Regions from separate parts of the Homo sapiens genome. Here regions 1, 2, 3, 4, 6 and 7 are each linked to region 5. Evidence: fine-mapped expression QTL. A gene starts in region 5. Each other region holds a variant in brackets. All regions are shown on one strand. Distances are from middle to middle.

Region 1 (4,344 bases), 110 kb after region 5:
GGGAGATTTGGGGTGGGGGCTTCACCGACGAACTGTGGGATTCTCCTCATCTGAGGCTGCTCCTGAGCCCACACGGATTTAGCATTTCACGTGCTGCTCACTAAACTGAGTGAACGAGTGGCAAATCAGCCACTGTGCGAGCCGCCTCTGTGGGAACCCAGGGCCGGGCTCTGCTCTGCAGACCTCTCCCCTGCCCAGGCCTTGGCTCCAGTGGGCACTTGTCCTGCCAGTGGCCATGGCCCTGGCAGGCTCCTCTGTTTTCCTGTCCATGAGCCCCTGCAAGAGGCCTTCTCTGTTCCAGTCCCTCGGCATCCCGCTCTCCTGGCTTCTCTGGGTGAGGAGTGAGGAAGGGTCACAGAGGGTCCTGCCTGCCCGTCAGTACCTCAGGGCCTGCTTGGAGGTGTGTGGGGCCCTTGTCCTCGTCCTTGGGTCTGTGACTCCAGATCTGAGGCCTGTTGGCCGGCCCTGCACCAGAGCTGCCTGCCTCGCTCCTGTGAGGAGGGACCCAGCGGCCCCCAGACAGGGGCAGAGGACAAGGTCGTCCTAATGCTGGGAGACGAAAGCCCCTTGGCGCTGTCCTGCGCCCGCAAGCCCTGCCACCCCAGTTTCCCTCTCGCTCTGCAGACGATGCCCTTGGCCTCATGCCCCAGTGCGTGTGGTGGAAGAGACGCACAGCGCAGCCTTGGGAGCCTGCCGGAGGCCCCCTGAAGGCTCAGCCTGCTGCTCTGACCCCCACACCAGCTGGAGTCCAAGTTTCCAGGAAGACTTCATCTCCCTTGCCCCTCGTCTGGTTCTCGGAGAGCTGGATGGGGCTTTCGCTCAGCAGCACGGGCACAGCTCCACTTCCAAAATGTGAGGGGCAGGGGCCCAGGTGTTGGATGCCTTCAGAGCCCTGGAGCCCCGGGAGGGGCTCTCAAGCCCACCTGCCTGAGTCGGGCATCAGGCAGGGAGAGTGCTGGGGCCTCCGCCCCTGCTGGCCCAGTGATGAAAACCAAGCATGAAGGGTGGGTGTTCATTGGTTACTTGCTGTGTGTGGCCTCTAAACATGCACCATTCCCTTTAATTTTCACAGGCTTCATGGGATGGTATTAGTGTTGCCACCGGACAGGCTGGCCCTGTGGAAGGAACATGGGCGTGGGCAGTTCCTGGCCTCTGGTCTTGACTCCTGACTCGGTTCCACCCCCTTGGGATGCTTGGCCCAATTCGTGGCTCAGAGCCCGGCTCTATCTATTTAATGGGAGCTGCACTTGAGGAGGGCCAGGGAATCATCTGGGCCAGCAGAGGCAGAGGCCCCCGCACGCTCCCTGCCCGATGCCCGACTCAGGCAGGTGGTGAAGGCATCCGAGACCTGAGCCCCTGCCCCTCACACTTTGAAAGTGGAGCTGCGCCCCTGTTGCTGAGCAGAAGCCCCACGCATGCAGGGGTGGGTTGGGAGGGGCCCCTGCCAGAGCCTCTCTCTACGCCGGCCTGGCTGTGGCATGTTCTCTCCAGATTTCCTCCAGGAGACGGCCCTGGTCCCTTGCCACAATAGAAATTATGCCCCATAATTTTCTGTTGTAAAACTTGATCTTTTTCTGCAAGCAAGTCATTAAAACTTCAGCTCTTGCACGCTCCATGTCCCATGAATGCCCAGGCCTTAGCACAGCTTCCGCAGTGCCAGAAGTTCCGTCAATCATGTTGAGTGATTGTAAATCACTCAATCAGTGGATGTAAATATGTGTACAAGAAGAAAGGAAGGAGTGGGGACACGGCCCCTTCCCCACAAGCCTCTCTCAAAAACCCGAACCTAACAGAATACAGGGGTGGAAACATGAACCTTTTCTCCATCTTCTGACCCTTAAGGACAGAGAGAAGCAGCAGGTTGTGATGTCAGTAGGAACTTGCAGACCAGGACAGCTGAGCGCTCACCGACGGCTCGCAGGACACCCTCAGTCACCGCCGCGCCCATCAGAAGAAACAGCAGGAACCAGACATTGCTCTGCCTGCAGAAATCACATCTGAAAATCAACTCTGCTTTGCTCCAAG[C/T]GACGGAGCTTTTTCATAAGTATAAAAAACAGCTAACTGGATAAAAACACCTTTCCTGGGGACCTGAGTGCTGCAATTCAAAGGGGCTGGCAGTGTGAGGCTGGAGAAGGGCTCCTGCAAGGCTCTTAGCTGGGCAGGCCGAGGGAGGCCCCTCTCGGTGAGCACGAAATCAGGGATGCCCCGGGCCGGTTAGGGATGGGGCCTGGACACCGTGAGATTTCCAGCAGGCTACACCTGGGGCTGCAGCCGGGGCAGCCCCCACAGAATACTCAGAGGCAGCGGGAAGTGCGGGCTGGTGACGAGAGTGGGAACACTGCCCCACACGCAGCCGCCTCGGTGCCACCTGGCGGACAAGCCGCCCCTGTCCCCCGCTTGGCCTCTCCACATGGCACATTTGCCCCTGGCAGTGCCCAGCCCCAGGTCCGGGTGACTGGGGACAAAGAATACCGATGGAAAAACAAGCTAACGAGCTCCTCCTAGGGAAGAGGCCCGCGCCAGGGAGGAGGCGGCCGTCTGGGCGGAGCTTCCCGATAGCCAGGCCCGGGCGGTGCCAGGACACTCACCTCAGGTCTCACCTGCAGAGCATCCACGAGTCACTCACGCTGGGCCAGGCACAGGCTGTGCACACAGAGGGCAGATCCAGACCACACGAGAGCATAGGTGCCCACGGGTGTGCAGGGATTGTGGGGGGAAAGGAGTGTGTGCTTGTGTGCCTGTAGGCGTGGGTGAGTGTAGGTGTGCCTGTGGGAGGGCGAGACCATGAGTGTGAGGGTGCGCGTGTGCCTGTGGGAGGGTGTGTGGGTGTGGGTGTGCGTGGGAGGGTGTGATTCTCTGTGGCTATGCCTGATTGTGTGTACATGTGGGTGCACATGCTGCACGTCTGTGCTGCAGGAACCCATAGGGCCAACCTTAGGTCCTAATTCTGGGCTGACCGTGTGCCGTCCCCCACGGGCCCCTGCATCCTCAGTTCCTCATCTGTGCTGTGGGCAGAAGCTGGGCTGCCCCACACTCCAACATCCCTAGAAGGGAAGGGATGGGGGCAGGGCTGGCTGCAGGGACAGCCTCGCCCACAGCAGACACGGAGGCCGCAGGGTCATGCCCTGGATGGATGTCACCCAGGAAAGGTTTTGCCTCCTCCAGTCTTTTAAATCAGGCTCCAGGGGCTACGATTACAGCCCTGGGCTTTCTCCCACCCCTCAGCCTCCCTCCTTAGTAGCTCCACAGCAGCTCCCTCCCGAGAGCACACCACCCCTGCACGCTCGGAGCTGCATCCTCCAGCCCCTCATTCCCCGCTCATCTACTCCGACCCAGCTAGGGATCCGGCTTCCCTCTTAGGGCCATTTCTCCTTTGCCAGCATTTTCTCTTTTTCCCTTCTGTCATGCTCTGCTACGTCCTCATGCAAAATTAAGCCCAAAACGGTTTCAGTTACTCCCAACCCTGAGACGAGTTTTAAAATAGTGACAGGATGAACATTGCACCTCCCATGTGAGGGCTGTAAGGGACTGGCAGTTCCAAATGCATCTTCCACTCGCAAAGTTGCTAACACAAATCCCATGGGGAAAAGGGAACTGCTGACCTTTCAGCGTGCAGATCTTCCCTTTGATGGGTTTGCTTGCCTTCAGAAGAGCCCAGGAAAGCTCTGCACAGAGGCCTGTGTGTTTCCGCCCCTCCTGTAGGAAATGAACGGGTGCGTCTTCTCCGTTGCCTTTATTGATCAAGGCCAAAATCACAAGTATAAATTACCACGGTGGGAAACGAGCTGCTCTGATGAGAGGCAGGTGGAGGAGGCTGCCTCGTCAATAATGCATCTGATCAGAAAGAAGGGGCTGATCAGAGGGAGGCCGGGCTCTTTGAAGGTTCTGGTTTTCCCATGGAAAGCTCCACCAGCTCTCTGCCTGCCGAGTTCCTGCTCTTGCCCAGACGGGAAGTGCGAGTAGCTTTCATATCAGACCTGCCGCTCACCGCACCGAACTGATTCCATGGACACTGACATTTGTCTCTGCAGCAGGGATGGCCGCCCTGGCCCAGGCTCCTGTCGCTGTGGATGCCTCTGTCTGGCACAGACTTTCGGTGTTAGAGCCCCAGGTGAAGGTCTGAAGCAAGAAGGAAAAGGACACAGAATCCCATCCCTTCTGAACCTGCGGGGTGCAGCTGCCCTGAGATCCTGTAGCATTTCACTGGGAGCCGACAGGGATGGTTTGCGCGCTGCCGGGATGCGTGAACAGGGGAGTCCATGAGGCCCCAGGGCTGACTCAGGGCACGTGCAGTTTGGGGAGCAGCCAGGGAGGCCTCCCGGGCAGCCGGTTGGAGGACAGAGC
Region 2 (4,344 bases), 130 kb after region 5:
TCTACTTTGTGCTGAGCCCTGAAGTGAGCTCTGGGTCCCAGAAAGGAGCTGGAGGGGGGACCTGTACCCTGGAGGAGTGAACAGCCTGGTGGGGAAGGGGACACGGACACCTACAAGTCAGACACGGGATCATAGGGCCTTCGAGGAGGAGGCCTGGGCTTCCACAAAGACAGCAGCGCCCCATCCTGTTCGTAATCTACCCCCAGGACGCCCCTCCAAGGCTGTGTGGAGGTAGACCTGGAGAGCTGGAAAGAGTCTCCACCCCTCTCCTCGTAGAAGTGGGAACACAGAAAGGAAGGAGCAAGGACGTGACCCCTCCACAGACCCCAGGCCCCGGGATGGCTGTTAGAGGGCCCTGGCTCAGGGGCCCCTCCTGTCCCTCAGGGAAGGGGGTGCTTTGGACTCCCCAAGCTGCAGGGAGTGGTCAGGCCCCATGAGGGTGGCAGAGGAACTGGTGTGGGGAGGAGGAGAGTGTGGGGGCTGTGCCTGGCCCTGGGGGTGCAAGCAGAACCCTCTGGGAGGGATCACAGGGAGACTTTTAGCCCTGAACGGGGAGTTGCCCAGAAGACCTTTGGGGGGCTTTAGTCTTGGCCTCGGCATCTCCTCTGGTCCCAGCCCTGACCCCAGAGATGGAAGGTGTCCAAGGTCAGCATGTGTCCGGCCTGTGGCCTCTGTTGGGCAGGCCATGCACAAAGAGGCCTCATTTATCCACAAAGACACCCTCTGTCGCCGAGACACAGACTCTTCCCTTCCAAGACCAGTGGAAAGGACTCGGGGACGGCTCCTTCGAGCCGGAAAACCCTGTCATTGCAAGGCTGCTCTCAGGCCCAGTGTGCTCAGAGAATTACACCTCAGCACCAAGCTCTTTTCACTAAGGGTCCCTTCCATAATTGGAACTTGAACAAATGGCAGTAAAGTATACAGGAGCTTGCCTACCTAGAACAGGGCTCTCAGAAGAAAGATAAGCTCCCTCAGGTTCAGAAATGGCAGCAAAGCACATTCCCCCATACTCCAAGGCCGGCACGTGGTGGGTTGGCAGTGGGGCCAGGCACGTGGGGGAGGCCCCTCTCTGTGAAGTGAGTCAAGGCAGAAAAGAGGAAATGCCTCTACCTATCCTGTCCGGGGCCAGGGGCCTGGGAGGTGAGGAGGGACATGAGAAGCAGACTGGTGCCGACCCACAGGCGTGAGCCTCCCCTACCCAAGGGAGCAGGAAAGCCCCATGGGGGTCTCCCGAGCCCACAGGGTCACGGGCACGTATTCACTGCTAACCAAGCTCCCTTTAGATGGTCAGTGTGGTGATATCTGGAGCTTGCCCTGGAGTTTGAAAGGGCAGGTGCTGGAGAGCGTGGCTATCGGGAGCCGTGGGCAGATTTGTGGAGGGAGGTGGCATGAAAAATGGCCCTCAAGATCTCTCCACCTGAGGAGGCCACCCTGTCTTCTGCCCATCCTCCACCTGTCTTGCTCCTGGTTCCGCTCATTTTCTTCTCTCTCAGCCGGCCCAGCTGACTCACCACCCGTAAGACCAGGCCCACCGTGGGCCCTGCCCTGGGACTTGGCCTCCATGTGCCCCACCTGGAGACAGAGCCACTGCCCATGGAATGAGGCTCGGGACTCAGTCCAGACATTGGCTGAGCAGGAACAATAGCACCTGGCATCAGTGACCGAGGAAGGTGTAAAGACCCCATCAGACAAGGCAGGGAAGAGGCTTCTGCCCCAGTGATGGTGTGAACCCAGGGCCTGGGCTTATGGAAAAGCTCCTCGAAAAATAATTTAGAGAAAAATAAAACCAGCAACCTCTTTATTAAGTACCTCTACCTGGGACACTGCCACCCCTCGTGGCCAGCAGGGATAGAAGGGTATCCACTGGTTCCCTCTCATCTCCAGAGGCTGCCTGTGCTGAGCCAACCGTGGTCCCTGAGCCAGAAGCTCTGTCCCTTGGGTGGCTTGACAGGGCACTCATGCTGAGCAAATAAATCCACAAGGAAACGCCGAGAGCCTTGTCCTCCCAGCGCGAGGCTTGCTTCCACTTGGTGCTTCACGGTCAGTACGAAAACCTGATGCACAGAGATGTTCCGATTATGTTTCTCTGCTCCCTGCTTCCTTGAGATCAGGCCACTTCGAATGAGGTAATGAGACCACAATTTTCTCCCCAGGAATTGTTCTCAACATCCTCTTTGCTGGTGTCTCCTCATTCATCCCAGCCCTGCTCAGATGCTCCCCCATGAGGTCCCGGGTGCCCGTCAGGGCCCGGCTCAGCCCCGGCATCCTTGTTGACTCAGGTCCCTCAGGATGGACCACTTTCTAGCCAGTAGGGCATGGGTCCCAGCTCTCCCCATGTGGAGTGTAGGGGGCTTGTGGTGGGTTCTACTCCCATGGCAG[T/C]GTTAGCCAAGGAGTCTGCGTTTCCACCGGGTCTGGGGGAGCTTGGAGTCATCAAAGGAAGCTTCTGTGAAAATCTTGGAGTTGCTGTTACTTTGTCTGGGGTTCCAAAAACAGCATTACCCCGAAGAAGGGACCTAGACTGAGTCTGAGCTCCATAAATTAGCTGCCCCTGTGTGGGTAAGAACAGATTTGTTGAACTCGATTTTTGCATTACATTTGCATAATACTCTCATTTAAATAATGACAGAAGGTATGGAGATGGGAGGTGGGAGGGACGTGGGCTCTGAGCCTGAGGGCTCCCAGTGGAAGGAGCTCAAGAACAGAGCTGCCCCTCCCACAGTACGACCTCCACTGCCCAGAGATCATACGGCAAATGGTGTTTTCTGGTGGGGTCAGCGGGGCGGGGGAAGAAGCGTGCCGCCTGGCCCAGTCTCTGTTGCCCATTGTCACCGCGTGGAGAGGTGGAGAAGTCCCAGGAAGGCAGAAGGCTTGGACCAGTGTGAGGTCTGAACGGCATCCCCAAAACCCCATATGCTTCCTCCAAGTTGTATTAATCCTATTTTTTTAATTTCTGTATTTTATGATGCTCTGACATCCTGGGGCCTCACTGACCAGAGAAGGAACTGCCTCTCCCAGGGGTAGCTAATTCCTGGGGACTCCCTGGTGAGTGTGCCTTTCATGTGCAAACCGCCCAATCCAAGCCCTTGGCTCCAGCCACCTCCTACATGGGCTCCTGCACTCCCAGGCCAGTATTTCCCTACCCTGAATCACCCAGGGCCAGGAACCAGACAACTAGAGCCCAGAGCCCTCCAAAATTGCTGAAACGCCAGCCCTAGGCCTGCTCAGCTGGTCACCACACCTCCCCAGCTCCTTCCCACGATAAGGGCTCTGGGCCTGCTCACCCCTCACTCCTGCTGCCTCCCGGCTGAGCTGGTGCTTTCCCACATGGCCTTGCCTGGTATGCCATGCCCCCTCCTCTTGGGAACCTTAAGTAATAAACTCTCCTTTCAAGACAGCTGTCTCCATGTTTGTCATCTTATCATACCTAATTAAAATAAACCATCGGTACATCGCAAAACACAAGCCTCTGTCACCCTGGCAGCCGGGAATGAACAGGAGATGCCTTCCAGGTGCCCAAGCACTGGGCTGATAACGCTGATGGGCACAGAACAAGCTGAAGGTGCCACCCCCAGGAAGACTGCAGGAACTCTGAGAGGAGTAGCTTGTTCAGGGCCCCCCTGCCAGGGATTGAAATAATTATCACTAACACCATCTTCCAAAATAGCATCTTGCATCTAGATCAGGGGTGTCCAATCTTGTGGCTTCCCTGAGCCACATTGGAAGAAGAAGTGTCTTTAGCCACACATAAAATACATTAACACTAATGATAGCTGATGATGAGCTAAAAAAATCGTGAAGAAATTCTCATAGTTTTAAGAAATGTGACGATTTTGTGTTGGGTCCCATTCGAAGCTGTGTCTGGCTTCACGCAGCCCGCAGACTGCAGGTTGGAGAAGCTTGGTCTAAGTAGTAGCCCATGTGGGGACAGCTGCTCTATTTGCAGAGTGACTGTTCCACGTCACACATAGTGGGCTGTTTGTACATAAGCTAGCCTGCCTGCACATACGCTGTGCCCTATGCAGAAAGGCTGGCCTATATGCAGATCAGCTCACTTCTGGTTCCCCCAAATGCAAAAATGTTCTAATAAACATGCTACTCAGATTGGCTGATCAGAGGCAACTCACAGATCTGACATCAATTAGTTGCTCTGGACCTGACCTCAGTGTCCATCCTGAGGACAGCTGCTGGCCCAGGACACATACATGCCGATTCTCTCACCGTAGACCCCACCAGCTAAGTGGGACACCACCACAGGGTGTGGTTCATTTTCATGCATGTTAGTGCTGTTCTCTGTCCATCCTTGCAAAGCAGGCAAAGCAGGTGGTCAAGAGGGAAGCAAATGTC
Region 3 (4,344 bases), 140 kb after region 5:
TTCATCTTTCTCCCACGCTGGATGCCTCCTGCCCTTGAATACCGGACTCCAAGTTCTTCAGTTTTGGACTCTTGGATTTACACCAGTGGTTTGCCAGGGGCTCTCGGGCCTTTGGCCCCAGACTGAAGGCTGCACTGTCGGCTTCCCTACTTTTGAGGTTTTGGGACTCAGACTGGCTTCCTTGTTCCTCGGCTTGCAGCCTACTGTGGGACTTCACCCTGTGATCGTGTGAGTCAATACTACTTAATAAACTCCCTTTCATATACACTTCTATCCTATTAGTCCTGTCCCTCTAGAGACTAATACTCTTAAGATTTTAAATTGTTCTCCATTTTCATCTTTAACATGGTAAATGTTAATAGATAAACCATACTTATTAGGGTTCTCAATTACTTCTTATTATTTTTTTAATTGACACAATATGGCACATATTCGTGGGGTTCACAGGGATGCTGCAGTACATAGAATGAATCAAGGATTAGATCAGGGTGGCGAACACATCCATCGTCTCAAACACGATAATTTCTCCTCCTAGCTATCTGAAACTATGAATTATAGTTAACTATAGTCACCCTACAGTGCCAAAGAACCATAGGACTTATTTTTCCCATCCAGCTGTAATTCCATATCCTTTAAAAAATCTCTCCCTATCCGTCCCCTCTCCCTCCCCTTCCCAGCCTCTAATATCCTCTGTTCTACTTTTTACTTCTATGAGAGCAACATTTTTTAAAGTTTCCACATGTCAGTGAGAACATTCAGTATTTAACTTTCTGTTCCTGGCTTATTTCACTTACCATAATGTCCTCCAGTTCCATCCGTTTTGCCATGAATGACAGGACTTCATTTTTTTTTACAGATGACTAGTATTCCACTGTGTGTATATACCACGTTTTTTATCCAGTCATCTGCTGTTGGACACCTAGGTTGATTCCACGTCTTGACTATTGTCAATAAACATGGGGTTGCAGATATTGGTTTGATATACCGATTCCTTTCCTTTGGATAAATGTCCAGGAGTGGGATTGCTGGATCTTATGGTAGTTCTGATGTGGGGCAGGTGAGCCCCAAGGTGGAGTTTAGTCTGCAAGGGTTCTTGCCTTTGCCCAGGAAAGAATTCAAGGGCAAGCCAAAGGAAGAAGAAAACAGCTTTATTTATTTAGAGACGGAATCTTGCTCTGTCACCCAGGCTGGAGTGCAGTGGAGCGATCTCGGCTCATTATAACCTCCGCCTCCTGGGTTGAAGAGATTCTCCTGCCTCAGCCTCCCAAGTAGCTGGGATTACAGGCACGCACCACGACGCCCACCTAATTTTTGTATTTTTAGTAGAGACGGGGTTTCAACATTTTGGCCAGGCTGGTTTTGAATTTCCCACCTCGTGATCCGCCCACCTCAGCCTCCCAAAGTGCTGGGATGACAGGCGTGAGCCACTGTGCCCGGCCAAAAACAGCTTTATTAATAAAGAAGAAATGTTACAGCTCTGAGACGGTTCCTGCAGAGCAGGGCTACCCTCTCTGCCCTGTAAGAAGAGAAGAGCAGCTCGGGGCAGTTTTGCAGTCATGTTTAATCCACTTTTAATTTCACGCGGATTAAAGACGGTTTATGCAGAAATTTCTAAGGAAGGCATAGTAACTTTTGGGTCATTGAGTCATTGCCATGGAAAGGAGCGGTAACTCCCGGTGTCGTCATGGCAACGATAAACTTCCATGGCACTGGTGGGTGTGTCTGATTGAAAGCTGCTTCCGCCCCAGCCCTGTTTTAGCTAGTCCTCAATCTGGTCCGGTGTTCGAGCCCCACCTCTGGAGTTGAGTCCCACCTCCTACCTCAGTTCTGTTTGTAGTTCTGTGAGGAACCTCCACACTGCTTTCCACAGTAGCTGTACTGGTTTACATTCCCACCAACAGTGTCAAGAGTTCCCTTGGTTATTTTTTGTCTTTTTGATGAACGCCATCACAACTGGGGTGAGATGATATTTCTTTTTTTTTTTT[TA/A]ATTTTTTTTTTAATTATTATACTTTAAGTTTTAGGGTACATGTGCACATTGTGCAGGTTTGTTACATACGTATACATGTGCCATGCTGGTGTGCTGCACCCATTAACTCGTCATTTAGCATTAGGTATGTCTCCCAGTGCTATCCTTCCCCCCTCCCCCCACCCCACAACAGTCCCCAGGGTGTGATGTTCCCCTTCCTGTTTCTATGTGTTTTCATTGTTCAATTCCCACCTATGAGTGAGAACATGAGGTGTTTGGTTTTTTGTTCTTGCGATAGTTTACTGAGAATGATGATTTCCAATTTCATCCATGTCCCTACAAAGGACATGAACTCATCATTTTTTATGGCTGCATAGTATTCCATGGTGTATATGTGCCACATTTTCTTAATCCAGTCTATCATTGTTGGACATTTGGGTTGGTTCCAAGTCTTTGCTATTGTGAATAGTGCTGCAGTAAACATACGTGTGCATGTGTCTTTATAGCAGCATGATTTATAGTCCTTTGGGTATATACCCAGTAATGGGATGGCTGGGTCAAATGGTATTTCTAGTTCTAGATCCCTGAGGAATCGCCACACTGACTTCCACAATGGTTGAACTAGTTTACAGTCCCACCAACAGTGTAAAAGTGTTCCTATTTCTCCACATCCTCTCCAGCACCTGTTGTTTCCTGACTTTTTAATGATCGCCATTCTAACTGGTGTGAGATGGTATCTCATTGTGGTTTTGATTTGCATTTCTCTGATGGCCAGTGATGGTGAGCATTTTTTCATGTGTTTTTTGGCTGCATAAATGTCTTCTTTTGAGAAGTGTCTGTTCATATCCTTTGCCCACTTTTTGATGCGGTTGTTTGTTTTTTTCTTGTAAATTTGTTTGAGTTCATTGTAGATTCTGGATATTAGCCCTTTGACAGATGAGTAGGTTGCAAAAATTTTCTCCCATGTTGTAGGTTGCCTGTTCACTCTGATGGTAGTTTCTTTTGCTGTGCAGAAGCTCTTTAGTTTAATTAGATCCCATTGGTCAATTTTGGCTTTTGTTGCCATTGCTTTTGGGGTTTTAGACATGAAGTCCTTGCCCATGCCTATGTCCTGAACGGTAATGCCTAGGTTTTCTTCTAGGGTTTTTATGGTTTTAGGTCTAACGTTTAAGTCTTTAATCCATCTTGAATTGATTTTTGTATAAGGTGTAAGGAAGGGATCCAGTTTCAGCTTTCTACATATGGCTAGCCAGTTTTCCCAGCACCATTTGTTAAACAGGGAATCCTTTCCCCATTGCTTGTTTTTCTCAGGTTTGTCAAAGATCAGATAGTTGTAGATATGCAGCGTTATTTCTGAGGGCTCTGTTCTGTTCCATTGATCTATATCTCTGTTTTGGTACCAGTACCATGCTGTTTTGGTTACTGTAGCCTTGTAGTATAGTTTGAAGTCAGGTAGTGTGATGCCTCCAGCTTTGTTCTTTTGGCTTAGGATTGACGTGGCGATGCAGGCTCTTTTTTGGTTCCATATGAACTTTAAAGTAGTTTTTTCCAATTGTGTGAAGAAAGTCATTGGTAGCTTGATGGGGATGGCATTGAATCTATAAATTACCTTGGGCAGTATGGCCATTTTCATGATATTGATTCTTCCTACCCATGAGCATGGAATGTTCTTCCATTTGTTTGTATCCTCTTTTATTTCCTTGAGCAGTGGTTTGTAGTTCTCCTTGAAGAGGTCCTTCACATCCCTTGTAAGTTGGATTCCTAGGTATTTTATTCTCTTTGAAGCAATTGTGAATGGGAGTTCACTCATGATTTGGCTCTCTGTTTGTCTGTTGTTGGTGTATAGGAATGCTTGTGATTTTTGCACATTGATTTTGTATCCTGAGACTTTGCTGAAGTTGCTTATCAGCTTAAGGAGATTTTGAGCTGAGACAATGGGGTTTTCTAGATATACAATCATGTCATCTGCAAACAGGGACAATTTGACTTCCTCTTTTCCTAATTGAATACCCTTTATTTCCTTCTCCTGCCTAATTGCCCTGGCCAGAACTTCCAACACTATGTTGAATAGGAGTGGTGAGAGAGGGCATCCCTGTCTTGTGCCAGTTTTCAAAGGGAATGCTTCCAGTTTTTGCCCATTCAGTATGATATTGGCTGTGGGTTTGTCATAGATAGCTCTTATTATTTTGAAATACGTCCCATCAATACCTAATTTATTGAGAGTTTTTAGCATGAAGGGTTGTTGAATTTTGTCAAAGGCCTTTTCTGCATCTATTGAGATAATCATGTGGTTTTTGTCTTTGGCTCTGTTTATATGCTGGATTACATTTATTGATTTGCGTATATTGAACCAGCCTTGCATCCCAGGGATGAAGCCC
Region 4 (4,344 bases), 100 kb after region 5:
AGAGTTTTCCTTTAAAAGTTTGTCTGGAAAATGTAGGTGGACAATTTATGACCTTGGCTGTAGGGAAGGATTTCTTAAATACATTGTAAGAAGCCCTGGCTATAAAATAGGAGTCTGATAAAATGTGAGTACATTTAAAAAACTATTGGTCAAAAATAACCTCAAAGAAAATGAAAGAGAAGCTAAAAATGAGAGGATACTCACCGGGGACATAACTAACGAAGGGTAGGCCTCAGGAATGTGTAAGGAATTTCTATAAATCAGTAAGAATGAGAAAAAGACCCCGAGACATGAAGGGGCATCTCCCTCAGGAGAAGCAGATGTGAAGCAGTGTTTGCAGACTTGGACATGTGGAGATCAAGACCCAGTGAAATGCCATCTGGCTCACTTGTTGGCCAGCACTGGCCGGGGGTGAGAGGCCTGCGTGGCCGCCCAGCCTCACAGGCCTTTCCCAGTGCTCTTGGGCCTTGGGCACAAAGGGTTTTGGAGGCCTCCTGTCCTGTGAGAAAAGGGCTGCCCAGGGCCAGTCAGCAGGCTGTGTGCAGGCCCAGAGAGACCCTGCCTGGGACCCTGCCTGCTTGTGGGCTCCTTCTCTGTCCTCAGCTACCCTTCCTGGGCAGTGGCCCAGCTGGAGACCAGCAGGTGGGTGAGTCACAGCTGTGGGTCTGAGCTGTGGGCGCCTGTGCTCCCCAACTGTGGGGGCAGAGAGGGCATGAGGAAGTGGTTCTGTGAGTCAGAGACCCCTGGGGGACGTGTTTTCCAGAACACTGACCTCCCCATGGCCCTGACAGAAGTGGGGCTGTGGCTTCTGTCCTGTGAGCCTTAGACACATGCAGACAGACACATAGAAACACATGGACATGCACACAGAAGCACATGTACATATGCATAGAGACACACACTGACATGGAGACACATATGTAGACACGCATATACACATGCAGACAGACACACAGGGACATAGACACACACAGACACACGGACACACACATATCTACACCCAGATGTACATGTGCAGACACGCTCACACCTACAGACACACGTGGACATAGACACACATGGCCTTGGGGAGGGCGTGAGACGAGTGCTACTGGCTGCTCACCCGCAGCTCCCTCCCTACCACACAGAGATGCTGTCAGATCAGGGCCACCTTGGGCCCTGCAGGCTCACAGAGCAGTGGAAAGGGAGGGGTCCCTGATGGGGTCTTCCTAGGAGAGGAGCCTGCTGGGTTGGGTTTGCTTCTGAACCCTAAAACCCAATATGGGGACCCTCCATGACTCCACGTAAGAATTAGGAGAAGCAGGTGAGACACAGGGCCCAAGAGAGTTTGCAAAACCTGGGAACGGTGAGAAGCTGGAGCTGAGGCCATGACCTGGGCTCGGCAGCAGGAGGGGGAGCGGCCTTCGGGGAGGGCAGGGCTGCAGCCGCGGAGGTGGGGGCCACACCCAGGCTGGGTTTTCTCTTTACGGCCATGGCGCCAGAGGGATTTGGGGATTGAGATTTGCCTGGTGCCTGATGGAGAGTGGATGGGAGAGGGTGCCTGGAGGCCATGAGGCCGGCCCGGACCCTGGCGTTTCCAATGCTGAGCTGGTCCGCCCTTGAGGCCAGGGAATGCTGTGGTAGGAGGTTGATGGCCCTGGAGATGTCCACATCAGAATCCTTGGGATCTGTGCAGATGTGGATAAATTAAGGGCTTGGGGATGGGGAGAGCATCCTGCAGTATTGAGTGAGGCCGGGGCAATGACATGTCCCGAGAGGGATCTGACGGCAGGGGGAGCCCACGTGACTAGGAAGGCAGCCGCTGGAGGGTCCAGGAACACTGGCTGAACGTGGGGGCCTCTAGGAGTGGAACAGGGGACGCTGCT[G/A]GAGCCTCCAGGAGGCCAGGCCTGGCTGATACCTTGGTTTTAGCCCAGTGAGGCCTGTTCCAGACCGCTCACCTCCAGAGCTGGGAGAGGGCGAAGGCATTGTTTTGAGCAAAGCCCGTTATAATGGCAGCAGGGGACTGATGGGAAGCTTCGTGACTTGGATGGGCAGTGACTTCTGGAGGGAGCTGTTGTCTACCCTCTGCCCCCGTTAGACACCTGCGGTACCCTCTCCCCCACCAGCGACAGGCGGGCTCAGATGCTGGGGTCTGTGTGCCCCAGGCACGGGCCACACATCCTGTTCTGGGTGTCAGTGCCGTCCATGGCCACCACTCCATCAGCACGAAAGCAACTAGGAGCTGAGTCTCCATCCGACTGGGGCCTGTGTTCCCTGACATCTTCCACACCCCAGGCAGACACGGCCCAGACAGCCACCTGCATCCTCTGTCACCTTCTCTCCCCACCATTGGTGGCCTGATGGCCCTGGGGCAGGTGGGTCACCTGGTGGGTGGCTGAGCACTCCCTCGAGGTCCCAAGGCCGATGCTGCACTGAGCCTGCAGCTCTTGCCATGGGCACTGGTGGGTCCCAAGTAACAGAGCAGAATCCCCAGGCAGCACATGGCTCTGGGCACTGGGGAAAAGGAAGGACCTGAGTGGTCACGCTGAGGAATCATCACTGTCCTCAGCAGAGCAGCGGAGGGACCTTTTGAAGTGCCCGCTGGCTGGAGCATCCCCAGTGGGGCCCCATCAGGATGCAGCCTAGAGGAAGCATCTCCCAGCACCCGTGTTGTGGGGGACCCTGTTCTTCCTCAGGTCCTGCTCAAAACTCTGCTCCAGGCACACCCCATTCAAACCCCCTGATAGAAATTTGTCTGGGCCTTGGCTGGAAATCTGCCAGCAATGGCAGAGGGGAGGGATCACAGCTTTAAGCTAAAAGGGACACCACGGGTGGAGCTCGGGGCCTCTGTGGGCCCAGATGCAGGGCCTGGGCAGTGGTCAGCCTTGCTCAGATATCCTGCACAGATCAAGTAGAAAGTTCTCAGCTGGACAAAAGACTCAGAAAGAAACATGTGGGGCAAACTCCTGGCCACCTGCCCATTGCTCCAACAGGCTGCATGGGGGCTGACCAGATGAACGGGCACCTGGCCTTCCCCTAATGAGCACAAGCTGCTCCCACAGGAAAACAAAAGTGTAATTCAGAGGGGGCCCTGGGGACCCACAAAGCCCTGCGGCCCGTGTGTGCTGATGGAGTTCATTTTCTGCATATTTGAGGGAGATAAAGCAATCATTGTGTGCGCCTCTTTACCCCCCAAGACCTCACTGATCCTTGGAGCTTTCTACCCGAAGAGTCTAATTACTGGGTCCAGGGTGACATAGGGGAGCCCCGTGGAACCAGGACCATCTGCTCAGGTCTCTCTGCTGCCCTGTGGCTCTGAGGGTCCTGCAGGAGGGAACCGCTGTGACCAGGACAGAGCGGGTCTTCCTGACACTGCGATACTGGCTTGAAGGAAGTGATGAAGAGCACACGTCCCTGGGTGGCCCTAAGCCAGGCTCAGCACTGGGGCCGATGGTCCTATCTAAGCCAAGCAGGCCCCAGAGCTTTCCCTGGTGCCCACAGCTCCATGGTCCAGGGTCTGAGATAGGAGGCTCAGATCTGGGTTGCTGATAAACTAGGCATCTAGTCCAGGGGCTGCTGGAGGCAGGAGGAGCCAAGACCTTCTCCTTGAGCTAAGATGAACTTAGGAGGCCAGGAACAAGGTCAGGAGGGCAGGGAGGAGCTCAGAAGGCCGAGGACAGGCTTGGGAGGCTGAGGACTCGCTCAGGAGGCTGAGGACCCGCTCAGGAGGCTGAAGAAGAGCTCAGGAGATTGAGGATGGGCTCAGGGCCTGGGGACAGGCTCTGGATGCTGGGGAGGAGCTCAGGAAGCCGGGGACAGGCTCAGGGGGCTGAGGAGGAGCTCAGGAGGCTGGGGAGGAGCTCAGGAGGATGAGGATGGGCTCAGGGGGCTGAGGACGAGCTCAGGAGGCTGAGAATGAGTTCAGGAGGCCAAGGCCGAGGTCAGGCGGTGGGGATGGGCTCAGGAAGCTGGTAACACTCTAATCCAAAAGCCCTTGGGCTGAGCAGAGCCCACCACTGGACCAGGGCCCGTGGCCGTGGGGGTCCCCAGGGAAGTTGCAGAGGGTGGTCTGAGCTCAAGGTAGTAGGAGTGGGGGTACCCCCCAGCTTCCCCCACACCCACCCCCATTTCCCTGCACACTGTGGCGTTGTCATGGAGGCGCTCTGCTCAGAGCCAAGCGGACCACACCCCACCATTCAGGCCCAGACACCCAGAGCCACCAGCACTTTCCACCGGGACAGGGCCTTCTGAGACAACTTTCCAGGACAGGCAAGGTGGGGACACCTCTGAGCCCCTTCCAGGAGCATATGATGAAGGAAAGGAAAGAGCAGAAATAATAATACTAGAAGTGGCCAGCAGCAACGG
Region 5 (4,344 bases):
TCCTAGCTCGAATTCACCTAAAGCTGAGGTGCTTTCTGCCGAAGCTCTGTCCTGCGGTGGACACGGGGGCGGGGTGGGGGGCTAGGATACACTTCCTGGCCACTCGCTGCTCTGGGCGGCCGTCTCTCCCTGCCGAGAGCCACAGCCCAGGCCAATGCTCTGGTTCTCAAATTTCCAAGCATTTCCTTGAACCTGACCAGCAGGCAAGGCTCAGAGGCTTCCAAACAGCCAGTGTGTTTAGACAGAAGACACTGGGCCTGGACATTTCAGGGAAGAAGGGACTTTCAACCAGATCTTTTGGAAGGCTGGTCTCCCCCTCTGCTGCTGGGGTAACCTTCGGCAGGTAGTTACTTATTCTGGCCTTGTCGTGGTTAATGTTCCACTGCTTCGGTGTAGCATCTGCTTGTTTTGATCTGTGTGGCGGAGGGAGGGGCCGGGGGGTGGGGAAAGGGCTTAGCCAGGACAGTTTAAAGAGAGGTTCCTGCCGTGGCTTCTCGCCCTTTATCGAGCCATCATCTCTTTGCAGCCAGCACACCCACCGCCCTTGCTGGCTGGGCCGCCTTGTTGCACCTCACGGCTGCCAGCAAGCCCCTCTGATAATTCTGCTCCAGCCACTGGGTTTAAAAGACTCAATAGGCACATCCAGACCTTCTCCAAGGTGCCCACCCAGAGCACCCTCGCCAAGTGTCTGAAAGCCCAGCGGCAGCCTGGCTCCTTCCCTCACCAACTCATTCATTCATTGCCTGACCCCATTTCCCAAGCTGGTGACCACGGCTGGTCAGGACTCGCTTCTAAAGGGCGCGGGGTCTGGCTTCCTCACCAGCAGCCACAGGGCACAGCTCCCGGACCAGCCGGCAGCCCCTCCCAAGGAGGAGGTTATTCTGGAGACAAAGGCAGCGCCCTGAGGTAGGCGGCTGCCTCCTCCCGCACCACACTCCCTGCCCGGCCTCTTCCATGGGGGGCGGCCCTCTGGGGCCCCTGAACCTCTCTACACCATGCCTTGGGCTCACGGCTCCCTTGGGGGTGGGCACCTGCCAGCCCCCACTCACCAGTCCGGGTTCTCCGCCGCTTTGGGGCTGAGCCTGGTGTCGCTGTTCACATTGAACAGGACGTCCTCCTCCGTGAGCGGCGGAACCGCCACCCGGTAAAGCGGGTGCTCGAACAGCCTGGCCAGGAGGGAGGCGTCTCCGCCGGGGCCGGGGGGCGACTCGGACCGACGCGGGCCGGGGTCTCGCAGCAGCGGCCGGTGCGCGGGGTCGTGGGGTCTTAGGGCGCCGGGATCCCGCCCCCGCAAGGCGCGCTCGGCCGGCTCGGCCGCGGGCGGCAGTTTCTCCAGCGAGTGGGACGAGAGGTTGGAGGAGGGGTCGGAGCTGAAGTCCTGCAGGATGCGGAGCGTGTGCTTGTTGGGCCAGCCCGCGTCGCCGGCGGCGGAGGAGGCGGCCGGGGGCTCCCCGGGGCGGCCCCGAACCTGGGCCCAGCCGGGCGCGGCCACCTCGGCGGCGGGCTGCGCGCACGAACAGCCGGGCTCCCCCGAGGGCCGCGCGCCGCGTCGCTCCAGCCTGGGCAGCAGGTCCAGGGCGATGTGCAGCGCGCAGGCCACCAGGAACACCATCAGGATGAGCACGCGGAACCGGCGCACCAGCATCATCTTCATGGCCGCGCGGGCCGGCCCGGGCCTGGAGCGCGTTCTGCCCGCGCGCCCCTCTAGCTGCAGCTGGGCACGAGCGCGGCGCCGCCTCGCGGGTCAAGGTCCATCGGTGCCGGGCGGCTACCAGCTCCGGGGCTGTCCCCGGGCCCGGGCCGCGTGCAGGGCGCCCGCCGCCGGAGCGCTGGGTCCCCGCGCCATCTCGGGCCCGTCCCCGCTCGGCCTCTCCGGAGCGGCCGCGCCCTCAGCCGGGGAGCCCAGGGGTCCTGGTCCGCGGAGCCGGGCGCGCGGGGGGCGGCTGGGGCCGCAGCAGGGGGAGGCTCGGCGCTCGCAGCCGCCGGCGCGGGGCTCATCGGGCGTGTGGGTCCATCCCGGCCGGGGCGCGACGGGCCTGGGCGGTGGCGGCGGCCGCAGGCGTCCCGATCCTCAGCGCGCTCCTCTCCAGGCGCCGGGCGGGCGGGCGGGGAAGGGGCGGCTCCTCCGGGCCGGGCTCTGCTCTCACGCCGCGCCCGGGAGACCGGGGCTGGGGGGAAGGGGGGGGCGAAGGGCGGAAGGGGTGGGCGCGGGGAGCGGCCGGCGGGGTCCCGGGCAGGTGCAGCGGCCGCCCCGAGCGCAGCTCCCGCCTGGCCGAGCCTCTCGGCGCCCCGCGTCCCGGGCGGGCAGATATCGAGCGCCGCGGAGCCGCCCCCCGCGTCAGCGCCCACAGATTGGCGGAGCCGCCGCCCCACGAGTCACGGCTGGGCCCGGGCCGGCTGCGCTCCCGCTCTCCTTCCTCCTCCCCTCGGCCGCGCCCCGCGACGCCTCTGAGCTCCGGGCCCGCTAAGGAGAGGGCTCCTCCTGCCCGCGGTTTGCAGAGGGAAGCGGCGGAGACCGGGAGGGCGCGCTCGGTTCTGGCCAGGCCAGCAGCTGCGGCCGAGTGGGGGGCTCCGGCCTGGCCGCTTCCTGGGACCCCCTCCCGCCCGGGGCCGCCGCCGCCAGCTGCAGCCTCTCGGCTCCTCCCCAGAGGAGCGCGGGGCCGGGGCCCAGGCCAAGTCCCTCCCCGGAGCCGCGGGGCGTCTGCGCCGCCGGATGAGCTCCCCGCCGGGCGGCGACCCCGTGCCCCACGCCCGTCTCGGCAAGGAGGAGGCGGAGGCGGCCCCGCGAGAGAGGCCCAAGGAGCGACTGGGCCTGGACCCAGGGGACGCCAGGGCAGCGGAGCTCCCGGCACCGGTCCCGTCCCCCCCCCCCCGCCCACCCGCGGGACGCGCCCGCCTTAACCCTCCAGGCGCCGGGCCCGCTGGGGGCGCTGAGAGGGGCTGGTGTGCCGGGGGCGCCTTCCTGCTTGGGGCCGACGGGGGTGTGTGAGTGCAGGCGTGTGCGTGTGTGTGCGCATGTGTGTGTGTGGATGTGCGTGTGCGTGTGTATGCCTGTGTGTGTTTGTGTGTGCGTCTGTGTGCATGTGTGTGTGCACATGCATGTGTGTTCACGTGAGTGCATCTCATCTGTCACCCACAACCAGGGGAGCGGTGCTTGTACAACCAGCTGGTGGCTTCTGCAACCAGCAGCTTCTGGCCGTGCAGCTCCCTGTAGGGAATATGAGTTAATCTGGATGTCAGCCTAAGATGTAGTCAGGGAGGTAAGTGTGTGGGAGGAGGCCACATCCCCTGTGCCTCAAGCCGGCTGCTTCCACAGTGCCCAGACTGCCTGGGCCAGCAGCCTCGCCAGCAAGCCCAGGCGGGTGGGCCGGGAGCAGGGCCTGGGCCCCCCCTCTTACTTTCACCGGCTGGCTGTGTTACCAGGGCCCTCTCCGCCCTCTCTGAGCCTCAGTTTCCTCTGATGTGAATTAAGGGCGTTGAGCCCATTGTTCCTGAGGAATCACTCATCTCTGAGCCTGGCCCATTGCCTGGCATTCCGTGGGCACCCACTAGATACTTATAAGGGGAGAAGTTGTTCCAGTCCGGCTGGCCAGTGGAATCCATGCGTCTTGGGCCATTTGAAGTGAGTGAAGGGCTGGGTGCGGCCCACCTGGAGCTGGACTGGAGGCTGTGTTGGGTGGGGCGGTGTGACCTGGAGGTGGGCTGCCCCCTCAGGAGACAGCTTCACCCCTGTGAGTGGACCTCATCCTTCCTTCCTTCCACTCACATGGACAGCACATCTGTGTGTAGACAGGGTCACTGAGAGAGGCCAAGGAGGGTGAGGAGGAAGATCCCGGGTGTGGGGGGAGTCCTGGGGGAGCAGACAGCAGGGACAGAAGCCTGTGGCAGGAAGGAAGGTCTTGGCCTGTGTTCTCCCAGCAAGGGTCCCCTTGGACTTGGAGTTCTATAGGCTCCTGGCCCCCCCATCTCTCCCGTGGTCTACAGGACCTCGACGCAGAGCTGTGGCTAGTGTCTTGGGGCAGACATGGGGCTGAGCAGACCCCATGGAACACTATTATCCGGTGTGGGGGGCCTCATGGAGGTTCCCTGGGCACTTACTTTCACTTGCCTCCTGCCCCCAACTCCTCTCCCCTCCCATCCTCACCCCCAGAGTGGTTTTTGGGAGCCCGGCAGCTATCTGGACCCGTGTGCACCCCTGGACGCCTCCCTCCCTCGCAGAGGGTCCTGGTTCATCTCGTCTGTTGCCTCTTAGAACAGTGGCCTCTACCTCGCCAGGTCCTTCAGAAGCGCCCCCCTCCCTGCCCCGCCACTGTTTTCCCAACAGCACCCGCCGTGGTCTGAGGA
Region 6 (4,344 bases), 77 kb after region 5:
CCGTCCCAGGGCTCCCGCACGGGAGGGCTTTGCACGTCCACCCCTCCTTTCCTTGACCAAACCCGGTTCTTATCCAGTCTTGTCTCTTCCTTTCTTTCTTTCTAAGCCCCCATGACCCAAGTCGGGGCTCTAGGGTGAGGGCTGCGTGTTCTGCTCCATGCAGCTGTCTGGACACTGCTGGACGAGGGCCTGTCTCCTGCGGGCTCCCACCCATTGTGGCGCAGGTTTACCCAGCCCTGCTTCACCAAAACATGACTTTATAAAGAAGAGTTATTTCTCAAACTGGGAGAAATCACTGCATTTGGTCAAACAATTATATATATATATATATATATATTTTTTTTTTTTTAACACAGAGTCTTGCTCTGTGGCCCAGGCTGGAGTACAATGGCGTGATCTCAGCTCACTGCAACCTCCGCCTCCTGGATTCAAGTGATTCTCCTGCCTCAGCCTCCTGAGTAGCTGGGATTATAGGCGCGCGCCACCACGCCTGGCTAATTTTTGTAATTTTAGTAGAGACAGTGTTTCACCATGTTGGTCAGGCTGGTCTCGAACTCCTGACCTCATGATCCACCCATCTCGGCCTCCGGAAGTGCTGGGATTACAGGGGTGAGCCAGCACGCCCGGCGGATTTATATTTGTAAAATCAGCTCTGCTCTGCTAAACAAATAATTAAAGAAAAGGTGAACACAAGACAGTGTAGACTGTTTAGGTGGCACCAAGAGAACCAGGGCCAGGGGTTGAGCCAGGATGAACACCAGGGGTCAAGGCCACAGCCAGGAGGGCCAAGGTGGGTGCCAGCTGTTGTGGGTGAGGCCAAGCCGGAGTGGGATCAGGGGTGACACTAATCCCTGGAGGAGAGACAAAGAGGGGGATGGGGGCTCAGGGAGTTGGGCCTTGAGGGACTTGCTATCTGATGAAAGGACGGACACGACCCACCAGATGAGGTGGACGGGCCTGGTAAGTGCCTGTCAAGGGTGGTGTGGAACAGAGAGGGGGCTCCTGTCTCACAGTGGGCAGCAGCCCAGCGTCTTTGAGACGGCGTGGAGATGGGCCTAGATCCTAGATGCTGAGAGGAGGCGTCCACACGGCTGAGGGAGGCCAGGCAGAGGCCATAGTGTGGGTGAAGGCCAGAGAATGGGCGAGCTCAGGGAACTGGGGGCCTCGGGGCAGAGCCCGGAGCAGAATGATGGGTGTGGGTGCAGGTGGGGCACAGGCTGGAGGTGTTGGGAAGAAGCCTGCGAGCCTGGTGCTGAGTGCCTGGCTAGCACCGAGTTCACCCGAGGAGCTCCTGAGTGTGGAGGGGAGATGGGGCTGGACCGGGACACTGGTGAGTCCATTCCTGGATGGGCAGAACTCAGCCACAGAGACCAGCCAGCAGGTTATGGGAAAGAGCCCCTGTGGAGGGCAAGGAGGGCGAGGGAGGGAAAAGGGTCTGCTTCGCTTTTTCCCGAGGACGTTGAAGGAAGGGAGAGGGCTTATGGAGAAGAGCAGGCCTCCATGTCCAGAGCAGGAATCCGAAAGTGGAATGTGTTTGCCAGATATTCTCTCTCCTCTGTCTCTCCCACTTCTCTCTGCCTGTATCTCTGTCTCCTCTTTGTCTCTCCCTCTCCCTCTCTGTCTCCTCTTTGTCTCTCCCTCTCCCTCTCTGTCTCCTCTTTGTCTCTCCCTCTCCCTCTCTGTCTCTGTTCTCGCTGCAGGAGCCCGTCCATATCCCTCATCCAGCAAACTCCATGGCCATGCAGGGCTCCTCAGGACACTGCAGTTGTGCCCTGTTTAAAACAATAACTGTTTCTCAAGTTTCTTGGAGTGAAGCCACCATGACCTTTGCAACAGACGAAGCCTACACTTTTTCCAAGTGTGACTCAAAGGACAAAAGGTTCATGCACAAGGCAGTTCTAAAAGTGGATGGGTAATTGCTGGTTCTGCTTCCTGTAAGGATTTTGTAAGATCACACCAAACCCACTCCCTTACAGAAAACAGCTTCAAAATCTGTACACAATGCAAACAGGCTGCTTGTGGGCGTTGGAGAGTGAACAGCAAGACGGACCTGGGGTGTACACGGGGGATAAAGGAGTTGCAGGAAGCACGTTCTCTTTGACCGTGGCTGTTAGCCTGAGCACTATGTAGTTAGGGCATGAGGAGCTGGGGGTCCTCAGGGAAGACCACAGTCTTCATGGCCTGGAACAGGAGCAG[G/A]ACGAAATTGGGGAAGCTGTGGCCAGTGGAGGGGGGGAGCGTCCAGAAGGGGAAACTTGGCGGACTCTACTCATGTTTCCGACTGGCCCTGAACTGCACACACTCAAAGCAGATAAAAGAAGCCCAGCTAAAGGCTGGTACAAAATGACCTTCTTTATAATGCTGGTTGTGTTCATTGTTCAATATTAATATAGCTGTTCCCGCTTTTTTTTTTTTTGACTAGTGTTAGTACAGTGTATCTTTTAAAATCCCATTAGTTTTCATGTATTTGTGAATTTATATTTAAAGTGGGTTTTGGGTAGGCAGCAATTAGTTGGGTCTTGCTTTGTTATTAAGTCTGACAAACTGCCACTGAATTAGACCAATGGTTATAGATCATTTTCATCTACCATCACTGTTGATAATGGTTGGACTTAAACCACCATCTTGCTATTTGCATTTTATTTATCCTGTCTACTTTTTGTTTCCTGTTCCTCTTAGCCAGCCTTCTTCTGGACTGGGTATTTTTTAATCATCCCATTTAATCACTTCTGTTGGCTTATTCCCCATAACTCTGTCTGTACATATGTATGTGTGCGTGTGTGTGTATACATTTTAGGGTTTATAGTGTGCACCTTCAACTTATCATAATCTATCTTCAAATAATATTACACTACATCATGATGGTTTAATAACCTTACAGCAGCACACTTCCATTCCCTGCCCTCCTTCATGTCCTTGTGGGCACATATTTTATTTCTCTACATGTTCTATACCCAGCAAAACATGCTTTTCCTTCCTGTGCTTCTATCGGGTCTCCTATAATGTCATTTTCCTCTTGTCCAAAGGACTTTCTTTAATATCTCTTAGTGCTTATCTGCTGGTATGATTAATATTTTAGCTTTTATATGTCTGAAAAACTTGATATCTCACCCTGTTTCTACCTTTGTTGCCAGGTACAGAATCACAAATCAACAGGCTTTTCCCGGCAGTACTTTGCAGAGCTTGTTCCACTGTCCTCTAGCTCGCCTCATTTTCAAGGAGAAACCTGTCGTCATCCTTGTCTTTGTTCCTCTGTACCCAGCACGTCTCTTTTCTTCTGCCTGCTGTTAAGATTGTCTCGTTCTTACCCAGTTTAAGCAGTTTGGTTAAGATGTGCCTTCTTCGTACTTCATACTTTTTGGACTGGGATATGTAGCTTTTAAAAAGCAAATTTCAAAAGATTTCAGTCATTATGTCCTCCTTTTTTTTCTGTTTTTTTTTCTTTGTTTTCTTTCTGGGACTCTAAATGTATGAATTTTAGGCCAATTGAAGTTGCCCCCCAATTAGCTTTCTGCTCCTTTTGAAGGGGTCTATTTTCTGTCTGTGTTTCACTTTGGATGGTTTCTATTATATACCTTTAAGTTCATTAATCTTTCCTTTTGTAGTGTCTGTCTAATCTCATCATCTCATCCAGTGAATTTTCTTTATCTCAGAAATGGTTTCATCTCTAAAAGTTAGAATTGGGACTTTTTAATGTTTTTCATATCTCTGCTTAACGTTATCATGTGGAATAGAGTGATAATAACTACAGTTCATCTGTGTCTAGGAATGCCCTCATCTGTGCCATTTGTGAATTAGTTTCAATTTGTTGATATTCCTCATTACATGATGTGTTTTCCTGCCTCTTTGCATACTTGGTGATTTTTTACTGTATGCTAGACATCATGTACTTTTCCTTGTTAGATCCTGGATAGTTTTGCACTCCTAAAATTATTTTAAAACTTTTCAGGGATGAAGTTACTTTACTTGGAAACAATTTGATATATTTGAGGCTTGATTTTAAGCTTTTTTGGGTGGGGCCTAAATTAGTCTAGGACTGATTATGCTCTACTACTGAGGTGATACCATGCTGAAAAAGCTTAATAAGGAGAAAGATCAATCAATAAATATTCACGTATATTCACAAAATATAATGAGGAGAAAAATCAATCAGTAAATATTCACGTAACCCTAAAAAAAGTTAAGAAATGAGAAACAAAGGGGGGAACTGGAGGGTATGTATAGAGAGCGAGGCATAAAATTACAGACCCAGACATAACCATGTCAATACTTATTTAAATATGAGTGGACCAAAGATTTCAGGTAAAACGCAGAGGTTGTCAGAATAGATATGAAAACAAGACCCAC
Region 7 (4,344 bases), 86 kb after region 5:
TGAACATGGCTTCTTCTTCCCAATGATGGTGCAAATGTATAATTTCTCCCAATGAAATCTGATTTTAATGAGAGACTAAATCAGAGGAAAGAGTATTATTTAGATAGTATATGCACATGTCAGGTTAATTTAAAATCAGCTTTTAGGTCAATCTATCTTAATTATTCTATTAACCGTTTTTGACTAGCAATTCCAATAATTGTGTTTGCGTAATACTTGGCAGTGTAATTGCTTTTTGGATTCTCTTCATTGTTTTGTCAGAGTCTGTTCCTGGGCCTCTGTCCCTGGTGAGCTGTGCTTGGGTTGAGTGTGTGCTTGGGTTGTGTATGCACATTCGTGCAACTGCACATGTGCTTGGGTTGAGTGTGTGTGTACAAGTGTGTGTGTGTGCACATGCTTGGGTTGAGTGTGCAGATGGACGTGCATGTGCATGCATACCTGGGTTGTGTGTGTGTGCACATGTATGTATCTGCTTATGTGCTCTAGTTGAGCATGCATGGGTGTCTATGTGCACATGTGCTTGGATGGAGTGCATGTGTACATGCACATATGTGCAGAAGTGCTTGCATAGTGTGTGTGCATGGGTATCATGTGCATGTGTGCTTGGGTTGAGTGTGTGTGCACATGTGTACATGGGTGCATGTGCTCAGGTTGAGTATGTGCATGTGCACACGTGTTTGGGTTGACTGCATGGGCATGGGCATGCAATGCATATGTGTTTGCATCATGTGTGTGCACAGAAGTGCATGTGCTTGCATTGTGTGTGCATGGGTATGCATGTGTGCACGTGCTTGTGTTGAGCATGTGTGCATGTGCTCAGGTTGGGTGTGTCATGGGTGTAAGGTGCACACGTGTTTGGGTTGACTGTGGGCACAGATGCACACATGCATGCATGCTTGGGTTGAGTGTGTGTGCACAGGTGTGCATGTGCACATGTGCTTGGGTTGAGTGTGTGCCTGGGTGTCATGTGCACGTGTGCTTGAGTGTGTGCATGGGTGTCATATGCACATGTGCTGGGGGAGGTGCTTCCCTGATTATTAATGAATGTATTTTCATGGGGTTTATTGATATCAAGGACCCCTGTCTTTATTTTTTATTTTTAAAATAAACTTCATTTTAGAACATTGTTAGATATAAAGAAAAATTGTGATGATAGCACAGAGTTCCTGTATACTCCACACCCAGGTTCCCCTACTCTTACCCTGTCACATTATACTGTACCTTTGTCACAGTGAATTAGCCCATGTCGATACAGTAGTAGGAACTAAAGTCCATACTTTATTCACATTCCCTCAGTTTTCCCTTAATATCCATTTTCTACCTCAGAATCCAAAGTATGATGTTACAGTTGGCCCTCATGTCTCCTTAGGGCCCTCGCAGCTGTGACAGATTCTCAGACTTTCCTTATTTTTAGTGATCCTGACAGTTTTGAGGAGGACTGGTTGGGTATTTTGTGGAATGTCCCTCATTTGGGACTTGTCTGATCTTTTTCCTGTGATTAGTTTGGGGTCACGGGTTGTGGGGAGGATGGAAAGTGACCTTCCCACAGCATCACACCAACGTCCTTGCTGTCTGCGTGACTTGTCACCGGTGATGTCAACCTCGGCGATGTGGCTGAGGCAGAGGTTTCCAGTTTTCTCCACTGTAAAGTTGCTCTTTTTCCCTTTTCATACTGTATTATTTGGAAGGAAGACACTCTGCAACGCTTATACCTTTAATTGTTTATTGATGCATAACATTTTACATATTTATGGGGTGCATGAGATATTTGGATACGCGCATGCCATGTGTAATGATGGAATTGGGGTATTTAGGACGTTCATCACCTCGAACGTCTATCCTTTCTTCATGTTGGGAACATTTCAAATCTTTTCTTCTCGCTATTTCAAAATATACAGTATGTTGTTGTTAACTATAATCCCCTCACTGTGTTATCAACACTAGAACTCACCCCTCCTACCAAACCGTTTATTCGTACCCATTAACCACCTTCTCTTCATTCCCTCCACCCGCCCCCCACTATTTTTTAAACAGCTTTACTGGGTTATAATTCACATACCATGCAATTCACCCATTTAAAGTGTACAATGGTTTTCAGTATATTCACAGAGTTCTACAGCCATTACTACAGTCAATTTTAGAAAATTTTCACCACCTCAAAAAGAAACTCCACACCCTTTAGCTACTCTCAGCCACCAGCCCTGCCCCCACCCCCAGCCCTAAAGAACCACAAATCCTCTTTCTGTATCTATGGGTTCTGCACGTTTCTCAAAATGTAAACATATAGTGCGTGGTCTTTTGCGACTGGCTTCTTTCACTTCGCATAATGTTTTCAGGCTCATCCACCTTGTAGCCTGTGTCAGCACTTCATTTCTTTTTTCTTTTTCTTTTTTTTTATAAGTACTTCATTCTTTTTCATGGCCAAATAACATCCTGTTGTACGGATACACCACATCTTCTGTAGCCATTCGCCAGTCACGTGTATCGGGGCTGTTTCCATTGTTTGGCTTTATGAGTGGTGCTGCTACAAACGTTTGTGTTCAAGTTTTTATTTGGATGTACTTTTTTGTTGTTTGTTTGTTTGTTTTGAGACAGTCTCGCTCTGTCGCCCAGGCTGGAATGCAGTGGTGCGATTTCGGCTCACTGCAACCCCTGCCTCCTGGGTTCAAGCG[A/T]TTCTTCTGCCTCAGCCTCCCGAGTAGCTGGGACTGCAGGCATGTGCCATCACGCCCAGATAATTTAGTATTTTTAGTAGAGATGGGGTTTCTTCATGTTGGTCAGGCTGGTCTCGAACTCCTGACCTCGTGATCTGCCTGCCTCGGCCTCCAAAAGTGCTGGGATTACAGGCATGAGCCCCTTAGCCTGGCTGGATGTATGGTTTTAATTATCTGGGACGCACACCTAGGGGGGGATTGCTGGGCCATGTGGTCACTCTATGTTGAACTCATTTTCAGCGCCTTTTCATTGTTTTTGTCTGCACTATTTTCTTTCCCAAAGAAGGTTCCTGTTTCTTAAGTCCTTGTCAAGACTATTTTCTGTCTTTTTGAGGATCACCCTCCTAGTGTATGAGGTAGCATCGCCCTGTGGTCTTGATTTGCTTCTTCCTAATAACTAATGATGTTGAGCATCTTTTCTTGCACTTACTGGCCATTCGTACATCTTCTTTTGAGAAGTGCCTATTCAAATCCTTTGCCCATTTTAAAATGGGGTTAATAACCCTTATTTTATTTGAGTTTTAAGTGTTCCTTACATATTCTGGATATGAGTCCCTTATCAGATACAGCAGGTCCCATTTACCTGGTGTCCTGGTTTCCACAGTTTCAGTTACCTGTGGTCAGCCATGGCTTGAAAATACGACATGGAACTGTGCATTGTTCTGAGTAGCACAGTGAGACCTTGCTCCAGCCCAAGCTATCCCTCCCAGCTGTGAACCATCCCTTTGTCCACTGTATCCACACTGTATAGACTGCTCCTTCCTTAGTCGTTACACTGTCTGCTCCTGACATCCAGCCATTGCTCATCATGGCTTGGTGATCCTCCTTCCGATCATTCATCGGAAGGTCAACAGCATCCTAAGACAATGTCACAATGCCTGCGTGATTCACCTCACCTCACCTCACCTCCTCCCGGAGGCAATTCCGTCATCTCACATGATGACAACAAAGAGGGGTGAGAACAGTACAATAAGGTATTTAGAGGGGTGAGTACAGTACATTAAGGTATTGAGAGAGAGAGCGATAGAGAGGTCACATTCACATAAGTCTTATTACGGCATATTTTTATCATTGTTCAATTTTATTATAGTTATCCTTGATAATCTCTTCCTGTGCCTAATTTATAAATTAAACTTTATCACAGGTATACATATATGGGAAAAAACAGTATATACAGTGTTTGGTAATCTCTGTGGTCTCAGCCATCTACTGGGGGCCTTGAGATGTATTGCCTGCAGATAAGAGGGGATTACTCTAGAAGATTTCCTAATATTTTCTCCTTTTATGTGGGTTATCTTTGCACTTTCTTAATGGCATTGGTTGTAGCACAGAAGTTTTTAATTTTAGTGAAGTGTCATTTATCTCTCTTTTCTTTTATCACTTGTGCTTTTGGTGCCATATTGAAGAAATCATTGCCAAACTCAGGCCATAAGGATTTCCTCCTATGTTTTCTTCTAAGAGTGGTTTTGTATGAATCCATTAATATGCTGTATTACATTGATTGGCTTTTGGATATCAAATCAACCTTGTGTTCCTGGGATAAATCTCATCTGGTTTTGCACATAATTCTTTTTATATGTTGCTGGATTTGATTTGCTAGTATTTTGTGGAGGATTTTTGCATTTATATTCTT

What was found.
Region 1: its variant is fine-mapped to the expression of FAM20C in whole blood (TOPMed, PIP above 0.99).
Region 2: its variant is fine-mapped to the expression of FAM20C in whole blood (INTERVAL, PIP above 0.99).
Region 3: its variant is fine-mapped to the expression of FAM20C in whole blood (INTERVAL, PIP above 0.99).
Region 4: its variant is fine-mapped to the expression of FAM20C in whole blood (TOPMed, PIP above 0.99).
Region 6: its variant is fine-mapped to the expression of FAM20C in whole blood (TOPMed, PIP above 0.99).
Region 7: its variant is fine-mapped to the expression of FAM20C in whole blood (TOPMed, PIP above 0.99).

Annotation. Positions count from the first base shown.
Region 1 is chr7:80,553-84,896 of GRCh38, reverse strand. All of the region lies in intron 1 of LOC105375113 (a long non-coding RNA gene), which reads left to right. It overlaps LOC101929756 (a long non-coding RNA gene), which reads right to left. Exons shown (of 3, transcript NR_187733.1): 2 at 3,603-4,344; 3 at 1,548-1,982. Among named protein-coding and RNA genes, the nearest start is that of FAM157D, 47 kb to the right of the region's middle. RefSeq lists enhancers at 1-530, 1,824-2,594, 2,595-3,367. The variant C/T (reference allele first, on the strand shown) is at 2,026.
Region 2 is chr7:58,097-62,440 of GRCh38, reverse strand. No RefSeq gene overlaps it. Among named protein-coding and RNA genes, the nearest start is that of FAM157D, 25 kb to the right of the region's middle. The variant T/C (reference allele first, on the strand shown) is at 2,380.
Region 3 is chr7:47,495-51,838 of GRCh38, reverse strand. No RefSeq gene overlaps it. Among named protein-coding and RNA genes, the nearest start is that of FAM157D, 14 kb to the right of the region's middle. The variant TA/A (reference allele first, on the strand shown) is at 1,986.
Region 4 is chr7:85,859-90,202 of GRCh38, reverse strand. All of the region lies in intron 1 of LOC105375113 (a long non-coding RNA gene), which reads left to right. Among named protein-coding and RNA genes, the nearest start is that of FAM157D, 53 kb to the right of the region's middle. RefSeq lists enhancers at 12-660, 2,941-3,664. The variant G/A (reference allele first, on the strand shown) is at 1,866.
Region 5 is chr7:190,510-194,853 of GRCh38, reverse strand. FAM20C (FAM20C golgi associated secretory pathway kinase) reads right to left here and starts at 2,283. Exons shown (of 10, transcript NM_020223.4): 1 at 1,050-2,283. The coding sequence starts at 1,654.
Region 6 is chr7:113,254-117,597 of GRCh38, reverse strand. It overlaps LOC105375114 (a long non-coding RNA gene), which reads left to right. Exons shown (of 3, transcript XR_926959.3): 3 at 1,701-4,344. Among named protein-coding and RNA genes, the nearest start is that of LINC03015, 34 kb to the left of the region's middle. The variant G/A (reference allele first, on the strand shown) is at 2,197.
Region 7 is chr7:104,456-108,799 of GRCh38, reverse strand. No RefSeq gene overlaps it. Among named protein-coding and RNA genes, the nearest start is that of LINC03015, 43 kb to the left of the region's middle. RefSeq lists an enhancer at 1-126. The variant A/T (reference allele first, on the strand shown) is at 2,673.